2 separate regions of the Homo sapiens genome follow, and region 1 is linked to region 2. Evidence: fine-mapped expression QTL. A gene starts in region 2. The other region holds a variant in brackets. All regions are shown on one strand. Distances are between the middles of the regions. Region 1 overlaps OSBPL2 (oxysterol binding protein like 2). Region 2 holds the start of OSBPL2 (oxysterol binding protein like 2).

The links. PIP is the estimated chance that this variant, and not a neighbour inherited with it, causes the effect. A credible set is the group of variants that fine-mapping cannot tell apart.
Region 1: its variant is the best candidate, but not a certain one, in a credible set for the expression of OSBPL2 in monocytes (Fairfax 2014, PIP 0.83).

What each region holds. Positions count from the first base shown.
Region 1 is chr20:62,271,076-62,279,075 of GRCh38, reverse strand. It overlaps OSBPL2 (oxysterol binding protein like 2), which reads right to left. Exons shown (of 14, transcript NM_144498.4): 5 at 6,817-6,951; 6 at 5,670-5,767. Among named protein-coding and RNA genes, the nearest start is that of ADRM1, 28 kb to the left of the region's middle. RefSeq lists an enhancer at 1-143. The variant T/AT (reference allele first, on the strand shown) is at 3,164.
Region 2 is chr20:62,232,249-62,242,689 of GRCh38, reverse strand. OSBPL2 (oxysterol binding protein like 2) reads right to left here and starts at 4,169. Exons shown (of 14, transcript NM_144498.4): 1 at 4,093-4,169. LOC105369209 (a long non-coding RNA gene) reads right to left here. Exons shown (of 4, transcript NR_160555.1): 2 at 8,707-10,285; 3 at 7,327-7,684; 4 at 6,389-7,218. RefSeq lists an enhancer at 2,420-3,344 and a silencer at 4,042-4,441.

The sequences.
Region 1 (8,000 bases), 38 kb before region 2:
CTCACAGGACGCTGGGAAGCAGGGGCCCTCCATGCCACAACATGTGGCGGAAACACCCAACACCACCTCTCCGACATTGCACTTGGCCTAACGTTGGCAACAGACACACACACAAACATGACATCGCACTTGGCCTAACGTTGGCAACAGACACACACACACAAACATGACATTGCACTTGGCCTAACGTTGGCAACAAACACACACACAAACATGACATCGCACTCGGCCTAACGGCAACAGACACACACACAAACACGATATCGCACTCGGCCTAACGTTGGCAACACACACACAAACATGACATCGCACTCGGCCTAACGTTGGCAACACACACACAAACATGACATCGCACTTGGCCTAATGTTGGCAACAGACACACACACACAAACATGACATTGCACTTGGCCTAACGTTGGCAACACACACACAAACATGACATCGCACTTGGCCTAACATTGGCAACAGACACACACACAAACATGACATCGCACTCGGCCTAACGTTGGCAACAGACACACACACAAACATGACATCGCACTCGGCCTAACGTTGGCAACACACACATAAACATGACATCGCACTTGGCCTAATGTTGGCAACAGACACACACACAAACATGACATCACACTTGGCCTAACGTTGGCAACACACACACAAACATGACATCGCACTTGGCCTAATGTTGGCAACAGACATACACACAAACACGACATCGCACTTGGCCTAATGTTGGCAACAGACACACACACAAACACGACATCGCACTTGGCCTAACGCTGGCAACAGACACACACACAAACATGACATCGCACTCGGCCTAACGTTGGCAACAGACACACACACAAACATGACATCGCACTTGGCCTAACGCTGGCAACAGACACACACACACATGGCTTCCAGAGCACATCTGACCCACCCAGAGAGCGCAATGGTGCAGGAGAGGCCTCCACCCTGATGCCCCGCTTGCTCTCCACCTGAGCCACAGCAGTGTCTGGCTAGAGGTACCCAGAGACGCAGGTGGAGAAGCAATCCTTACACACCTCTGACTCCAAACCCTCAACCCCGAGGGACTCCCATTGCCCAGGAACTCAGGACCCTAAACCCTTTCTGAAGGGGGTGCCCCTTCCTTGTCTTTCTACAAGGCCCCTGAAATTTCCGAGATGGAATGGCTTATACCCCAAAATACTCCTGTCCAGGAACAGGATTTTTAGTGTACTCTCTTTTTCAATCAAAATGTCAGCTTTTAATTGTTCCGGAACTGTGAATACACCTACAGTTGTAGTCATTAAAAATTAGAAAAGCTAAACCACATAATTACCAACTTAACTGGAATCAGAATTTCCAATCATTACAGAAGAAAGAAAGTTGAAAAATTAGATTTTAAAAGGTTGACTACCAAGGTATGTAATTTACAAAATGAATACTTGTCTGAGAAAAGAATGTGTATTTTTAGCTATAACAAGGGATCTGTAGGGATCCAGGGTATCAGGAAAGGACTTGGTCCACGTCCATGGCCCCTAACCTGACAGACTGCCAGGGTCTCACAGACACACAGCACATGGCAGACACTGGCAAGGACGATCTGGAAGTGAACTCATGACAGACGACGTGTCTCGGCGTTGCGAAGGTGCATAGCTTGCTTCTGGCTGTGCAGCAGGAGCTCCGGCCCCGGGTGCAGCCCCTGGGGAAGGGTGCTGGCGGCACGCCCCGCTCTACCCAGCCCAGGCGGCTTGCATTCCTTTCACCCACAAGGCTTCTTCTCTATCATCTAGAACTTCTTTCCTCTTCTGATTTATCTTTTTCTTTTTCTTTTTTTGAGATGGAATCTCAAAATCTCTGTCGCCCAGGCTGGAGTGCAGTGGCGTGATCTCGGCTCACTGCAACCTCCGCCTCCAGGTTCAAGTGATTCTCCAGCCTCAGCCTCCCGAGTAGCTGGGATTACAGGCACCCGCCACCACGCCCGGCTAATTTTTTGTATTTTTTAGCAGAAACGAGGTTTCACCATGTCGGCCAGGCTAGTCTCGAACTCCTGACCTCAGGCAATCTGCCTACCTCAACCTCTCAAAGTGCTGGGATTACAGGCGTGAGCCACCACGCCCGGCCTGATTTATCTTTTTCAAGACATTTTAATAATTTTTTAAGAGCCAATCCCGTCAATGCCTCTGACAGTGGCACAGCACGCTGACCAGAGGACGAGAAGGCTGGCAGGCAGCAACAGGAATACTGCTCAAGAGAAATATCTAGAAAAGGAAGCACACTCTACATGAATTCAGAACAGAAGACTCCCTCACAAGTGGTTCTCGTGGCCAGTCTTTCCCTTGTCCAGGCCTCAGCCTCCCCTTTCCCAGAAGCAGAAGCAGGGCTGCTCCCTGCAGCTTGTGCCAAGACCGACAGTTGCCTGCTGGACCCTGCTGTCACCACGCCACACTCTGTCCAAACTAGTCCTACTTGCTCAAAGGCAATGACATCTTGAGAACAGGTGCTCGGCTGCCCAGTGCCAGCCAACTTCTAAATCAGACAAAAAACACAAAGTTGGCATTCACGCACGGGCAGCATGTGGGTAAGGACCAGCAGCTGACCCAGCCAGGATGAGCCAGGAACAGATTAGAATTTGAAGCTGTGACATTTATGTTGCTTCTCCAAACTGCATAGTGATTTATATACAGAAGTGCAGGAAAGCTTGTACTACTAACAACGCATCCTCCCAAAATGGTCTGACAGGCAGTGCTGACACACCTTCTAGGACAAACATGGGCACGCACTTTTAAACTCTTTACACACTGGAAAAGAGTCCATCTGAAGCAAACCAAATCCCACAACCATTTGCTCACTATTGATAAAAATCTCAATCATGGCCAGGCGTGGTGGCTCACGCCTGTAATCCCAGCACTTTGGGAGGCCAAGGTGGGCAGATCACCTGAGGTTGGGAGTTCGACACCAGCCTGGCCAACAAGGTGAAACCCTGTCTCTACTGAAAACACGAAAATTAGCCGGGCCTGGTGGCGTGCACCTGTAATCCCAACTACTCAGGAAGCTGAGGCGGAGAATCAGGAGAATTGCTTGAACCAGCAGGCGGAGGTTGCAGCGAGTGGAGATCATGCCACTGCCCTCCAGCCTGGGCAACCAATGGAGATTCCGTCTCAAAAAAAAAAAAAAA[T/AT]TCTCAATCATTAATAACACATAAAATACAATAAAGGGCCCCAAAACAGCGGCCTTAAGTTTCAAAGGAACTGCACTTCTTGGAACCCAAGATGCCATTCATTGCACTGCACACCATTATTTTATGAAAGAAAGAAAAAAATGCTGCAAATGAAACTATGACTTGGACTGGGCACAGAGGCTCACACCTGTAATCCTAGCACTTTGGGAGGCTGAGGGAGGCAGATCACTTGAGCTCAGGAGTTCAAGAGCAGCCTGGGCAACACAGCAAAACCCTGTCTCTACTGAAAATACAAAAATTAGCTGGGCATGGTGGCGCACGCCTGTAGTTCCAGCTACTTGGGAGGCTGAGGTGGGAAGATAACTTGAGCCCAGGAGGTCGAGGCTACAGTGAGCTGTGATCATATCCAGGAGGTTAAGGCAGGAGGTCGAGGCTACAGTGAGCCGTGATCATGTCACTGAACTTCAGCCTGGGCGACAGAGTGAGACCTCGTCTCAAAAAAAAAAAAAGGAACAAGAAACTGACATGTAGAAGTGCTGCCACGTGAACAAGGCGTCTTAGAATCGATGAAACACTCTAATTTAGAAAAAGTTTTTAATGTCACAGGAAAATTATGACATGTTAAAAAGGGATACAAATTAAATTATCATATTTTGAAACACACACAAAAGAAAGTCTAACAAAATGCTGACAGTTCCTCTCATTTTTTTTAAAGAGACACGGTCTGGCTCTGTAGTCCAGGTTAGAGTTCAGTGGCACGGTCACTGTAACTGAACTCCTGGGCTCAAGTGATGCTCCTGCCTCGCCTCCTGAGTTGCAGGTATTCCAGGCGTGAGCCCAGCCAGCTATTGTCTTGTATGGGATTATGCCTGATTCATCTTTTCTACCTTTCTCAATGTTACACATTTTCTATAAAGAGCACTCTCTCGTAATTAAAAAAACAAACAGACTTCATAATAAAATAACCCAACAGAATCTCAACTAACCCAGAATCCAAATAAGAGGCTAATTGTTTTGGCTCAACTCCCTTTTTCACAGAAAAATAATAAAACAAGATGATAAAGGAGCCCGCCTTCCCTCCCGTCTGCACTCTGTTCCTGGGCAGGGAGGCGTGCAGCCCAGCAGCCTGTGGCAAACAGCTTGCATTCTGCACAGCAGACTTGTCTAGATAACCACCCACGCCCCTCCAGCTCCTTCTCCCCAGGCAGGCGGAGCGAGCTCTGTGTGCTGGGCTCCACTGACAGTCAGAAGAGTGAAGGGTGTCCCACCAGCAAGCTCCTTCTTCCCAGAGTGAGCTCTGTGTGCTGGGCTACCTCGACAGTCGGAAGACTGAAGGGTGCAGCGAGAGTGCCCTGCCCCTCCCTCCTTCAGAACCACAGCTTAGCCCTGTCACAGAGACAGCAGCTGAACTGTGCTCTGCTGACTCTCCCTACACATCTGCCCATGGGCACCTGCATGCATCTACAAGAGAATGACGGGGTCCACGGGCAGTGGAATAAAAATCATTTTAGACATCACCAAACGGCCCTGAAGGAAGCCACCCACATCCCTCTCATCCACAGCTCCCCGGAGCCCCAGCCAGGCTGCTCAATGGCTGAGGAATTACCACACTGCCACATACATGCCATGGTCTGGCCTGCTTTTGACTTCATTTGTTGGTGTGGGTGGGCACTGTCACCTGGGCAGAATCCCAGGATGATTCTGTGAATAACCACAGCAGTCCCCAGGGCAACCAGGTGGGTGAAGAGAACCCCAACCAGTCCTTCCAGAGGCCCAGCCACAAACAACGGATCTGGGGCCCGGCTGGACCTCTGGGGTCAGAGTTCTAGGACTTGGAGTCAGTCTCACGTCTGTGAGGTGAGGGCCACCAGAGACAGGAGGGAAGCTGGGGAGACTCTAGGAAGGGATGGCAACGCTGCCTAGAAGAAAGTTCCATAGGAAGAAGTTTCAGGGATGTCTGGAGATGAGGCGTGGTCTGGTTAACTCTCCCTTGGCCAGAGCCGTCTGACCCTTCCTAAAACTCTGGGGAGGCTGTGGTGGCAAACGTGGCCTTGGGAGTGAAGCTCCTCTTTGCAATCATTCCTGTGTTTGGATTTACCTGCTTTTTCAATAGCGTTCACTAAATGCTTTAGTGAAACAGCCTAGTTTTGCTCATTAGTACCTATTTCCATTTTCGGTGAAGCTCACAACAATCCTACACATTTCACAGACGTCGCACACACACACGGAAGCGTCTACAGTGCGCGCTATCTCCACGCTTGAGTCGAACACACTAAAATATCTCATTGCCAGCGCTTTACACTCACTCAGACGCCGTGGCACGCTAGCACAACACCCCGTGTGTGTGAAACATCTCGCCTACAGCATCCAAACGCTTTCGTGAGCTCTTAATTCAAACAGTTTATTCTCAGAGCAGAGGAATCAATGCTAGTGAAAGAATCAAACTTATCTGTCATCCAAGGAATTCCATTTACAAGATATTTATGATGGGCCTTTCCCCCCTTACCTGATTAATTCATACGTTTCTCCCAAGAGTGGATTAAATGGTTTGCCGGTCCTCTCCCACTGGGAAGCCACAGCCGAAACAGCAAAAGCAGCCACAGACTGTAAATAATCCACGGGGGGGACAGGCACAGCTTCAGTTAGGAAACGCGCTGGAGAAGATGGCCTCTTGTGGAGGGCGGTGGGCACCTGGTTTCTGTCACTATTTGTTCCGTGTGCGTTTTCAGTTTTCCCCGAGCAGTGTGTCTGAGATTATAGGACTTCCAGGGAATGCCCTTCATCACCCGCCACTCCCCCGACAGCACAGAAAGAAGGAACTGGGTGCTGCCTTCCACCCCCGGAGCCAGGCCCTTCTGGCAGATGCTGCAGCAATGTCAGCCACTCCGTCTGATATGCACACACAAGGCCACACACTCAACACACACACCCCAAGCACTCATTCACAGAGGCATGCGCACACACGTGCACACGTTATGTGCACCCACAGTCACACACTTGTATTTTGTTATTTTTTAGACACAGGGTCTCACTCTGTCACCCAGGCTGGAGTGCAGTGGCGTAATCGTGGCTCACTGTAGCCTCTAGCTCCTGGGCACAAGCGATCCTCTCTCATCAGCCTCCCAAGTAGCTGGCATTGCAGGCATGCAACACTGCACCTGGCTAAGTTTTAAAAAATTTTTGTAGAGATGCGGTCTCACTGTGTTGCCTCAGCTGGTCTCAACCTCCAGGAGCAATTCATCCACCTCAGCCTCCCGAAGTGTTGGGATTACAGGCATGAGCCACCGTGCGTGCCCAGCCCACAGTCACACACATGCACACACATGGGGTGCGGTGGTGCAACAGGACCCAAGAGAAGCCCAAGGGCAGAGCCCACCGCCACCTTCAGCTCCAAGAGGCGGAGTCTCCCGGCAGGAGGCGGCAGCAGGGAGCTCTTGGGGCCACTGAGAGCTCAATGGCATTTCCGGCAAGTTCTGTCATCACACACCTGTGGTGACAGGACAAATGCCACGACCGCCAGGCAGGATGGCACTGAACACTGGGGGGAGCTGTGCGAGTCCTCACAGATGCCTGGGGCCCCAAGACTGTGTGGCCAGACATGCAAGGGGCATCACTTTCATGACAAACTCCTGCCTGGCACCCCTAAGGCCCACCTGCATCCTCTCCAGGGGCTGGGGCTGGCAGGAGGCCCTGTGGATGAGGTACACGTGCTCCATGTACTCCGTGATCCGCTGCAAGAAGCTCAGAGGCTCGTTGAAGGCGATTGGCATCGTGATCTTGGACAGCTCCTGGAAAGATGGGGAAGACTCGCTGGTTACTGCTGCCTTCCTGACACCGCTGGGCTGCCCGATGCCCCTGCTCTGAGCATCCCTTCATGGAGCCGCAGCCTCTGGGGTTGAACCGGATCTTCAAACCCCCCATGGGTGAGCCACTCCCTGCCCCATCGGCCCTGCCCTGTGAGCCTCAGCTGCCATCAGACCTGACACACAATCTGTGCTGAGCCTGCAGAGGTCTCTGGCATGACACCCCTGAATCCTCTCTGCCTCCCCAGCCCACCGCCCCATTCCAGACACAGAGACTGCCACAAGGGCTCTTGGGCCCACCTGCGCCCCCTCCCCTACTCCACATCTTCTCCACCCCACTTCCAGAGTAGTGGTCCCAGGCTGGGCACGGTGGCTCACACCTAAAATCCAAGCACCCTGGGAGGCCGAGGCGGGTGGATCCCTTGAGGTCAGGAGTTCAAGACCAGTCTGGCCAACACAGCGAAACCCTGTCTATACTAAAAATTCAAAAATTAGCTGTGCATGGTGGCGCACACCTGTAATCCCAGCTACTCGGGAGGCTGAGGCAGGAGAATCGCTTGAACCCAGGAGGTGAAGGTTGCGGTGAGCCGATATTATGCTATTGCCCTCCAGCCTGGGAGACAGAGCCAGACTCCGTCTCAAAAACAAAAAAACAGAGTAGTGGTCCCAGGCAGAGCCACCCACGCCGTTAAAAATAGTCCCTGGCTTCCCGTCCCTCCAGGATGCCTCGGACACACCTGAACCTGGCAAATGAGGCCTCCCATAACATGGCTCCATGTGGCTTTCCCCTAAGGCCTTCCGAGTTGGCAAAGGAGTCTCAGGTGTCTGCTCCCAGGCCCTGGACGGCAGGGCGCATGGCTTAGTGGGGGAAGCTGGGAAGGTGCCAAGGGGACGAGTGCCCACAGGGGCCACTCTTCCCACCGGGCTTCCAGGAAAGGGATCCCAAGGGCAGTAGGCATTCCAGGGAAACACAGCTGTCACCTCAGGGCAGGCTCTTCAGGAAGGAGCAGGGTCTGGGGTGGGCAAAGCAGAGG
Region 2 (10,441 bases):
CCTCAGTGCGCAGGTGAGAAGTACACACCTTACACCCAGGAGAGAGGCCTGATGACCGCCACAAGCCCTGAGGGTGCGGGAACCTCTTCAGGCCCCAAACTATGGAGCCAGCCACTAGCTCAACAGGACTGATCCCAGAGTTTGTTTCTCAAAATACATCAAGCGAGTGTTCCACTGAAAACAGAAGGCAAGCAAAGAGAAACAGCCACAAACATCAGGCACGAGTCTCAGATCCAGTCCCTTATAAAAGCTCACTTCCACCACTCAGCTCAACTCAGAGGTCACAGGATTTGCATCAGCAGAAGCTCCAGCGGAAAGAATGTGGATGCTGTGACATTCTGCTGAATGATCCCAAGTTCTTTTCTGAATCTGGAAGGAAAAGGAAAGAAGTGCCAAAAAGTTCACGCAAACAGTGCTGTGAGCTATTTAACAGATGCTTTTATTATCAAGAGCTGCAGAGGTGGGCCGGGACACCACCACGCTTCCACAGTGGGACCCTAGCCCAAACCAGCAGCCTGAGAGGCCGGGACACCATGCCTGAAACTCACTAGCAAGAACACTCTGAAAAAGCAAAAATGACAGCAGATTTACAAATCAACTAGCATATGTGGAAAGTGCATTTAAACTATCAAACCAGAACCCACCATATTAACTCAGGACTTCGGTCCTTTTTAATAATCAGTCATGTTCAAATACTGACTTCCTTTCAGTGTAGATAAGGTTATAAATCAACCTGAAAATGTACTACATATTGGAATTAAACCTCGTACCTGACAATCTGTGCTAAACACTAAACGAAATGTCAACACCCAAACAGGAAGTATGACAATGACTAGGAGAAAATCAGCCCACACCCAAAGATCCCGGGACACCTGAGGGTGTGACTGCTGCACTGCTGAGAGGCTCCAGCTTCAGCAGGTGTTGGAGCCAAGGGCGGCCCAGGCACCCACAACGTATCAGACACTTGATGTTATATTTTCACAGATTCCACATAGTAATCCGTCTTACAGGCAAAGACACTGAAGGCAGGAGCCAGTGGGAACCCACCCAGGACCCAAGAGCCCTGGTCTGGCGCACCACCTTCGCAAAGATGCTGTGACTCAGGAAGGCACGGCGCCAGCTGTGCCTGCACGGCCAGACAAGACATGGCTTGCATGGGGACATTAAAGAAATCACCTTGAGGAGATGGCAGCTTCCCTGCTTGAAGACAGCATAAGAACCTAAAATGTGTCAACAATTCCCTTATACAAAATGTCACTTTTGTAATTGGCTGAATGTACTAAAACTTTAAAAGTCGAGCAAGCTTTAATGACAAATCCAAGACCCAAAATTAGCCAGGTGTGGTGGCGGGCGCCTGTAGTCCCAGCTACTTGGGAGGCTGAGGCAGGAGAATGGTGTGAACCCGGGAGGCAGAGCTTGCAGTGAGCTGAGTTCGCGTTTGCAGTGAGCCGAGTTCGCGCCACTGCACTCCAGCCTGGGCGACAGAGCGAGACTCCATCTCAAAAAAAAAAAAATTCCAAGACCCATCTGCTGGCATCTCCTGGACGGCACAGAGGAGAGACACTGGGATGAAAGTCAAGTGGCATTTTTTTCACATTCAAACAGCACCTCTCATTAACATGTGGAACACAGCAGAGTCTGACCCTCTCAACGCACTCGAGGCGTGGAAGAAAAATGTCCTACGTGTGTACTCTAAGGCAGTGTGTGAAGTCCCCTGGAACTGAACTCAGAACGGAGACCTCAGAGTCTGGACTGTACGCCTGTCAGCACCCATGCCCCTCAGTCCTCCCTCTTCACACAGAGACCACCACTGAATCTGCCAGTAACAAAGGAGCTGGGTGGCAGGGAAGGTATTCTGGCAAAATCCTGAATGGTCAAACGGTAAATTACTTTATTTCAGAAAAAATGAAATGGCTTTGTAAACACTCAGGCTCACAAAAAAGAAAGTCTATTAGTTCTATATGTAGCAAAATCCCGAAATTCTGACACAGAGTAATGCAGCATGATTAGAATATTCTAAACGAAAATGTTAAATGAAAATCTTGATATTAAAAGGCAGTACAGGGTAGTGTTTAAGAGTGTGAACCCTGGAGCCTGGGTTCAAATCCATATTTCATAATTTACTGCTGTGTGGTTTAGGTAAGTTACTTAACCTCTCTGTTCCTTAGCTTCCTCATGAATGAACTAAGGATAATGTCAGTACCTGCCCAGTGGACTGTTGTGAAGATCACACAAAGAAAGTGAATACGACATGCTCGTAACAGTCCTGGAACAATCATTATTAAATATTATCGTCTGCTGGGGTAAGAGCTGTCATTAATAGATGGACACATGAAGAAAACAGGGTAAATTCTATGAGGGAGACTCAGTCACTCACTCACTCATTGCCACATTCTAAAAGACGACACTGTGGCAGGCACTGGGCTGGGCAGGGAGGAAGTGCCACCGACAAAGTTCCTGTCCTCAACAAGGGGAAGGTAACTGGCATTCCGGGGTGCGCACTAGGTGTCAGAGACTGTGGTAGAAAATGATTTCATGGCAGGGCGCGGTGGCTCGCACCTGGAATCCTAGCACTTTGGGAGGCTGAGGCAGGCGGATCCCTTGAGGTTAGGAGTTCGAGACCAGCCTGGCCAACATGGTAAAACCCCATCTCTACTAAAAATAAAAAAATTAGGCGGGCGTGGTGGCCGGCGCCTGTGGTCCCAGCTAGATGGGAGGCTAAGGCAGGAGAATGGCTTGAAGCCGGGAGACGGAGGTGGCAGTGAGTCAAGATCGCACCACTGCACTCCAGCCTGGGCAACAAAGCGAGACTCCATCTCAAAACATAAAACAAGAAAATGATCTCGTTTGCTTCTCTTATCAGCAAAGTGCTACATGTCCGGATGAAGGAGTTGAGGCTGACAGCCAGAAAAGAGGCCATGGGCACGAGTTAGGAAGGGCAGCAGGGACGGCCGTGGCTTCCCAGCATGTGGCCCCTGCACCAGTTCCGGGCTCCTCAACTCTCCGCTGTCCTCACCACACATCCAGCTGGTGGGAAGGCCGCACAGCACCCAGCCAGGCCCACAGCAGGCATTCGAGAAACGTCTATCCAACCAAACCGAATGGGACCCCTTCTCCAGGTGTTCCGGGCAGTCATCCCAAAGCTGCCGGAGCCAGGCTAGGCCAGGGCCTGTCCTAGAGGACGGTTCAGATAGAAACGCCCCTGGGAGGTGACCCTCACCCCAGGAGAGCCTGCAACACCCCGACACCCACTGCCTCGTCGCCGGTCCTCCCATGAAGCGGGGAGGCTGAGGTGCTGTGACGACCTAACAGTCTTGGTCTGGGCTTATAAACTTGGAAAGTCTAAAGACGTATTCTTCTGAGTACCAAAATATAACTGGCGAAAGAAGGAACCTCTTAAAATTACATTACCAAAGATAGGTTTTAGGTAGCAAGTTCTCAACCGTGTGTAGTCTGCTAAGATTTATAAATTAAAAACAAAAACAGAGCCCAGGGGAACGGACAAGGGCTCGCGGGCACCCTCCCCGGGACGACGTGCACACAGGCCTGCGGGACAAGAAGGCCAGGGTCGGAGTGGGACTGCGTCTCCCTGCCCTTCTTCCCGGCGGAACTCGCCCTCCTCACCTACAGGATCGCCCTAAATGCGCACGAAATCCTTCCCTGTTCCCGGTGAGGTGGTGAGAGAGGGCGAGGCCGCGAGCAGGTGCGCCCGTCCCCACTTCCTGCTCAGCGGGGCAGCAGGGGGGCTGGGGATCTCGGGGGGGCCGGGCCGGGGGTCCCGGGATCGCAGTTGCCGGGCGACCGCAGGGGGAAGGGTGCGGGGGCCGCGGGACCCAGGCCCAGGCCCCACGCCCGGCCGGAACTTTCCTCCCAAAGTTTCCCCGGGGCGCCAGGCTGCGGCCTAGGCCGGGCGCGCCTCCCAGTGGGGGTCGAGGCCGGGGCCGGGGCCGGGGCTGGAGGCGGCCTGCGGACCCGGGTCCTGCCCGGCCCGCCCTCCCCTCCCCGCCCCGGCTCCAGCCCCAGCCCGCGGCCCAGGCCCCGCAGCTCGCCGGGGTCCCGGGCCTTCGCGTGGCGGCGGCGGGGGCCACTCACCTGGACGCGGGTCCCTCGGTTGCCGGCCGAGCTCACTGCCGCCCCGCCCCCGCCCCGTAGGCCCGCGACCCACTGACACCGAGGCGGAAGTGCGGCCCGCCGCCTCGCCGACTGACAGCCCGCGCCCGCCACTCGCTGCGCCCGGCGCCGCCGCGTCGGCCGCTGCCTGCCCAATCAGCGCCCGGCCCGAGGCTCGCGCCGGGGGGTGGGACTATGCTAATCCCTTCGCGAAGGGCCTCTACCTGTGCCCCCTCAGAGCCCCGCCCACGCAGCGGAGTGACGGCAAGGACAGCCAGTCACAGCAGGAGAGAGGCGGGGTTATGCCGCCCCTGAGCCAAAAGGGGAGGGAGGCAAGGAGGAAAGGGCGTGGCTGCAGAGAGCAGAGTTGACAAACAGTGAGTCAGGTGGCCCGGGGCGTGGGTGCTCCGCCCTCAGGTGCACTGCGTCCTGGCGGCAGTGCGGGCCTGCGAGGCTACCCAAAGCCCTGGGGGCTTTTTCCTACAAATGCTGGGGACCGTGCGATAGCTGGGGCGTAGCTGCTTCCACTGTCCTACCAAATCCTGAATATCGTCCACCTCCTTTGCATGCCATTCACCGCCAACCAAAATCCAGCGCCAATTTACCCCTCCAGCTGCATCCCCGACCGTTTCACCACCATACTTAAAACCCTTTGGACTCCCACTGACCTACAGTGGCTCCAGGGTTAAGCCCAGAAGTTCTGGAATCAGACCTGGAGCTTGCATTCTTTACCAGCTGTGTGGATTTGGACAAATTAATTAACCTCTCTGAGTCTGTGATCACTCAGTTTCATCTGCAAACCAGGGTTCCCCTGTCAACATCTCATTGAAGTCATGGGTCTGGTTTGAGGTGAGTGGAGTGGCATAAACCAGGCTGGCTACATAGTCACAGCAGTTGGTTTAGGGGTCAGCCTGTGACCCAGTTCTAGCCAAAGAGGCTCAGTCCTGGGACTTTTGCTGTAGGGTCAGAGTTCAGACCGGAGGGGAGGCTGAAGTCAAATGACTCTCCCATCTGCCCACAGACCTCTCCAGAGCTGGGTTAGGTGAGAGAGGGAAGGGGCCAGTCTTCCACATCTCACTACCCGAGAACAGGGCTGCACGAGAATGAAGCCAGCCCAGAGGAAAGCCGGAGCAACCACGGCCGGGTCACGTGGACCCTGCTGCACCTCAGCAGGTCCTTTCCTTGACTTTTCAGTTACGTGAACCACATGCTTGTTTCTGCTTCAGCCCATTTGAGGTAAAGCCAAGAGTCCTGGGCTTCCTGTGGCCTTGAGAGCTCTGGCAGATGACCCGTGACCCCGCAGTGCGTCCTGCAGCAAAGCCAGCCCCCGTTGGGCCTCTGCACCCCCTCCTCAGGCCTTGTCTCCCCACTTCCAGGCTGCCCCTAGCAGGGCCATGGAGGCAGGGACAGGCCTTTGCCCCATCTGTGGCCCCGTGGCAGACGTGGGTACTCTCTATAAATTTCAGGGCATGAGTGAGCCAATGAACGTGGCCTCTGTGGCAGGGGTGGGGCCCAGGCCACATCTCTGGGCCCAGCAGGGCCGTTCTCCCCCACCCCAGGGGCTGGCCCCACTCACTGGTGGGCCACTGTCAGTCGGCGCCACTAGAGACGTGCCGGGACCAGGAAGGAGCTGGCTGAGCCTCTCCTGAAGAGAGAACGGGGAGGAGGGCGGGCAGGCCTCAGAAACAAAGGGGTTGCCATGGTTACCTCTGAAGAAAGCGACTCCAGCCGGTGAAAGGGAAGGGAAGGCGTGCGGCCCCCAAGCCAGGACAAGGACGATGAGGCCAGTTGCCACGGAGATGACTGCGCTCCACAGCTTTCCCTGTGGGCCTTGCCAGGGCCAGCTCAGGGTCCCAGAAACCCATCACTCTCCATGTCCCTCACCCTAAGTCTCTAAGACTCTAACCCCTGTGCCCTTGAGGGGATCCAACCTGCCCACCCACCCCTTGACCACGAGCTCTGCAGTGAGGGCAGCCTCAGAGGCTCAGGCAGAAGGACCCTCTCATCTGCCCAGGGACCACCCCAGGGCCAAGCAGGGAGATCCACCCTGGCCTTGGGGTTGGGGGTGTGATCTCAGATGGCCCCTGGGCTGGAGCAGGGGTTTCACCCCTCTCCACAAATGCAGTAACTGAGCTTCAAGGGTAGTCTGCCGTCAGCCAGCACTGCTGGAGACGTGCCAGGACTGGGAAGGGTACTTCCTCCCCGGGGCCAGTTGCTGGGACTAGGCGAGAATCCTCCCTCAGTTGGTGGGTAGTAAGGAGGGTGCCTTGAGACCAACTTAGGCGTCTTTGTTATGATCTTTACTAGGTCACGAGGCCAATTCAAGAGGCACAGTTCTCCAAGGATGGAAGATGGGGGTGGAGAAGGCAACAAAGATGGATGAGCTGGGGCCATGATGATGAGGATGATGATGTTGATGATGATGATGGTGATGGCGGCCGAGTGCCCTGTGATTTACAGGCCCATCTGGTTTCATGTTTGCAACAGCCAATCAAGTGGGTACCAGGTGCCATCATTCCCACTTTACAGATGAGAAGACTGAGCCCCAGACAGGTTAAGTGACTCCCCCAGCCCTGCAATGAGGAAGGGCCCAGCACAGCTCCAGGCACAACAAGCAGGCACTCCAAGCATAGGGAGGTCTGGTGGACCAGGCCTGGCCCAGGAGCTTGTCGGCAAGGCAGAGCCGCATCCAGGCTCCCGGACCAGGATCCGCACACGAACAACAGGCCCAGGAGTTCCCATGGCTGTGGCTGCTGGACCCCCGCACCAGGTGGGCTGGCGGCTGTGTCCCACACATGCTCTCTAGAGCCTGAGAAATGCTCATCCTGCAGGTGATTTGGGGGGTGTCTGCTCCCACCTTCACTGCTCTCAGACCAAATTTCTGCTTCCTGACAGAATTTGTAGGATCCTCCCTCTGTCCTCTTAGCCAAGGAGGGGAGAAGCTCTCTCCCTCCCTCACCATGGGGGAGGTCACCAGTGGGTGGATTTCATGACCCACATACCTCCCAGGGCTGGCATGCGGGGTCCAGCAGTCCCAGCCACAACTATGTCATCCCGCTTCCTTTCCTCTCACGGTGAAGGAGGCGGAAGAGAGGTTGTTGCTCCCACCTTTTGGATGGGGAAACTGAGGCTTAGAGAGCAGAAGCAGCTTGCCCAGGGCCTGGCAGCACCAGTCCCGCCTACGACCCACCGCCCTTTCCCCCGCTCCACTCTTACCTCCTCCCCCAGGTTTCTGGGTCTGGGTTTATCTCTTTATCTGGGTCTGCACCCACAGCTGCCCCATTAGATCAAACAGGGCTTGGCTTCCAGGAACGCCGGGTGCCTTGGCATTGCTGGCCTGGCTGGCAGCTGCTGGCTGGTGAGCCCCAGCTGAGGCTGTCTCCTCTCCCCAGGCACTCCCCAGGCCTTTAGAGAGGACATTCTCCCACTCTCTTTTATGGAAAGCCATGGAATCTTCTGTGTGGATGCAGCCTGGGCAGTCAGAGAGGGGCCTGGCCCTCACGTGGCCGCAGCTGACCCCTCCCCGCCGCAGCTCTCCAGTCTCCTCTGCGACGTGACAGCCCTGGCTTCTCTGCTGTGGGGAGGAGAGTATTTTTAGTTTTGAACCCACCACGTGAAGCGAGACAAGTTATCAATAGCAGCAGCAAAGGGCTTTTTCTTTCTCTCTCTCTTTTTTTTTTTTCCCATGTCTTTGGGACCTGAACAATCTGCACCCATTAAATTCTGCCAAAAGAAAAAATAGTGTTCCTCTTATAAACTTTTTACCCCACAGCTTCCTTGCTGCTGCAGCTTTGCAAACCCACTCTTCCTGGGATGATCCCCCTGGTCTCCACAGCCCCCCTCTCCACTCCTGGGCACTGAGACCTGCCTGGGAACAGGCCCTTCTGAGCAGAGGGCCAGGGTGGGGCTCAGGCCACAGCTCCAGAGCAGTTGGAATGAGGGGCTGGGGAGAGGGGAGAAAGGCCCCCCAGTTTCCCGCTCACAGAGCTGGCAGCAGCCACAGCCTCTCCTGGAGTGCTTGCTGCCTGCCCGGGGCCAGGCCCAGCTCCTCTGAGTGCAGTAGCTCAGGGACACGCCCCACCCCGCAGTGAAGGGCAGAGAAGGTGGCCTTCCCAGAGGCCTTTCCGGCTGTAATTCCTTGTTTCTGGAGGAAGGGGTTCCTCAGTCAAGTAGGCTTGAGAACACTATTTAAACAAAGTCAACAGGTGCCCTCCCCAGCCTTAGGCTTCCCAGAGCCCTTCCCACTCAGGTGCACATGGAGGCTCCAGGGCCCAGGAAGGGCCTGATGCAGACCCCCAACATATGGGGATGGAAGCCTTTTTTCTATGAAGTTTCTTGCAGGACACTGGAGTGGCTTCCTGCCTTGCTGGGGGAAGCATTTGAGCCAACATGGCTGCCTGCCCTTTAGAACTGGTTAGAGCTGCGTTCCTGAGAAAGCTCAGAGTAACAGAGGCTTCGACAGAGTAGAAACGTACTTTTCTCTCGGTGACACAAGCCTGCGCTGTCCAGCTGGCAGGGTACCATGCATCCTCAGGGACACAGCTCCTATCTTACACTATCCTCTCCTAGTGGCATCCTCAGGGACGCAGCTCCTACCTTACTGTATCACTCTCCTAGTGCTGGCTTCCAGCCTCAGTGTCACCTCATGGCCCAAAACAGCTGCTGATGCTCCAGCCATCACAAGCATACCTGACCAGAAAGGAGGAAGGAAAAGAGGAAGAGCAAAAGTGCTGCCCCCTAGATGAGTCAGCTCCCTTTGAGGATCTGTCCCTGAAGACACACCCAGCACTTCTGCTCACATCTCACTGGCCAGAACTCCATCCTATGCCACTTTTGGTAGGATAACGGCATTTTAGCTGAGTGCACTTCCAGCCTAAACAAAACATGGGGCTACGGGGAGCAGATTACAGATGGCCCCAAAGCCAGGCCTAGACAGTCCCAGACCCAGAAATGTGGACATCTCCAGAAGCGACCCATGAGTGCCCTGCCTCAGAAGAACCGACAGCCCCAGATGCAAGACAGAGCGCCTGGCACACATTCCCTGGCACGCCTGTGGCACAAGGGCTGTACTCCAACTCCGTGCCCCAGCGTGGTGCTGCAGCGGCCACTTCAGCGTTGGCCCTGGAGTTTCCCTCTTCCTGGCTGCACCCTGACTGATGGGAAGTGGGTTCCTGCTCCTTCTTGAAATACCTGTTGAAAACCTGCTGCACTCTGCTGGCCCCACCCTGGGTGCCGGGGTACCTCCAGAAGCAGGGCACCCACCCCAGAGGCTGCTAGGCAAAGGGCTTTCCTAGTGTGGGAAAGTGGGGGACCCTGGGGGACCTCTGCACCCTTCCTGAGGGCCCATGTAGGGTTGGCAGGGTGTGGGCACATCCCTGCAGGGAACGGGAGGGGCAGGTGGGAGCCGGAGGAGAGACAGCTGGGCTGGGTTAGATTTAACTTGCTGCGGGAGCCAAGTGCGTTGGCTGGAGCCACTGGCTGGGCCTCAGTGCCAGGGGATCCGCCAGGCACGGGGGTGGGAGGGGCAAAGTTTAAATATGCCTGAGGAGCCAAGATGGGGGGCAGAGATGGGGCCCAGGTTGAGGAGCCACCGGGGGCCTGAGGGTGGCGCCATGGGTTTCTCCTCAGGAGCAGCCCAGCAGCACGCTTGCCCCTCAGCTGGAGCTGGGGATGGGGGTTGGGTAAGAGACAGCCAGCCAGAGATTTGGGGTTCTTCTGGGGATGGGTGTGCTCCCCCAGTTGCATCCCTGGGAGAGGAGGTCAGGGAGGGGGTGGAGGGGATGGCTAGGGGTCTGTGTGTCAGGGGTCACAGCAGGGCACTGCATACCCAGCCCAGTCCTCGTGGTCACGGTAGAGAGGGGTGACCCATGAGGCAGAGCTGTACCCACCAGGAGCTTCATGCATGGCTCACAGCACCCAACCTGTGCTGTCACATGGCACCTGAGGTTAATTTACCAATCTACCATTGCCGTCTTGAAATTCTTCATCATCTTGGGGCAAGGAGCTCACATTTTCACTGTGCGGAGGACCTGGTAAATCCTGCAGCCATCCTGGGCGAGGAGGGTGCGGCACTGGAAGCAGGGCCCACGGGGTTTCAGCAGTTGCACACAGCCGGCTGGGTGATGCCATCCCTGCCAGGCATGGTGACAGGCTGGGCAAGCAGGCTGGGCCTGTTCTGGGGAAGAGATGGAGGGGCTGATAAGAGGCCCTGTGCTGGGCTTCTGTGCCTGGTGCCAGCCTGCACAAGCTGGGGGAAGGCAGTCTGCCCAGGGGTCCCATGTCCCAGGGCTGGGAGATCCCTGGGGCCAGGGAGGACCATGCTGGCCGGTGC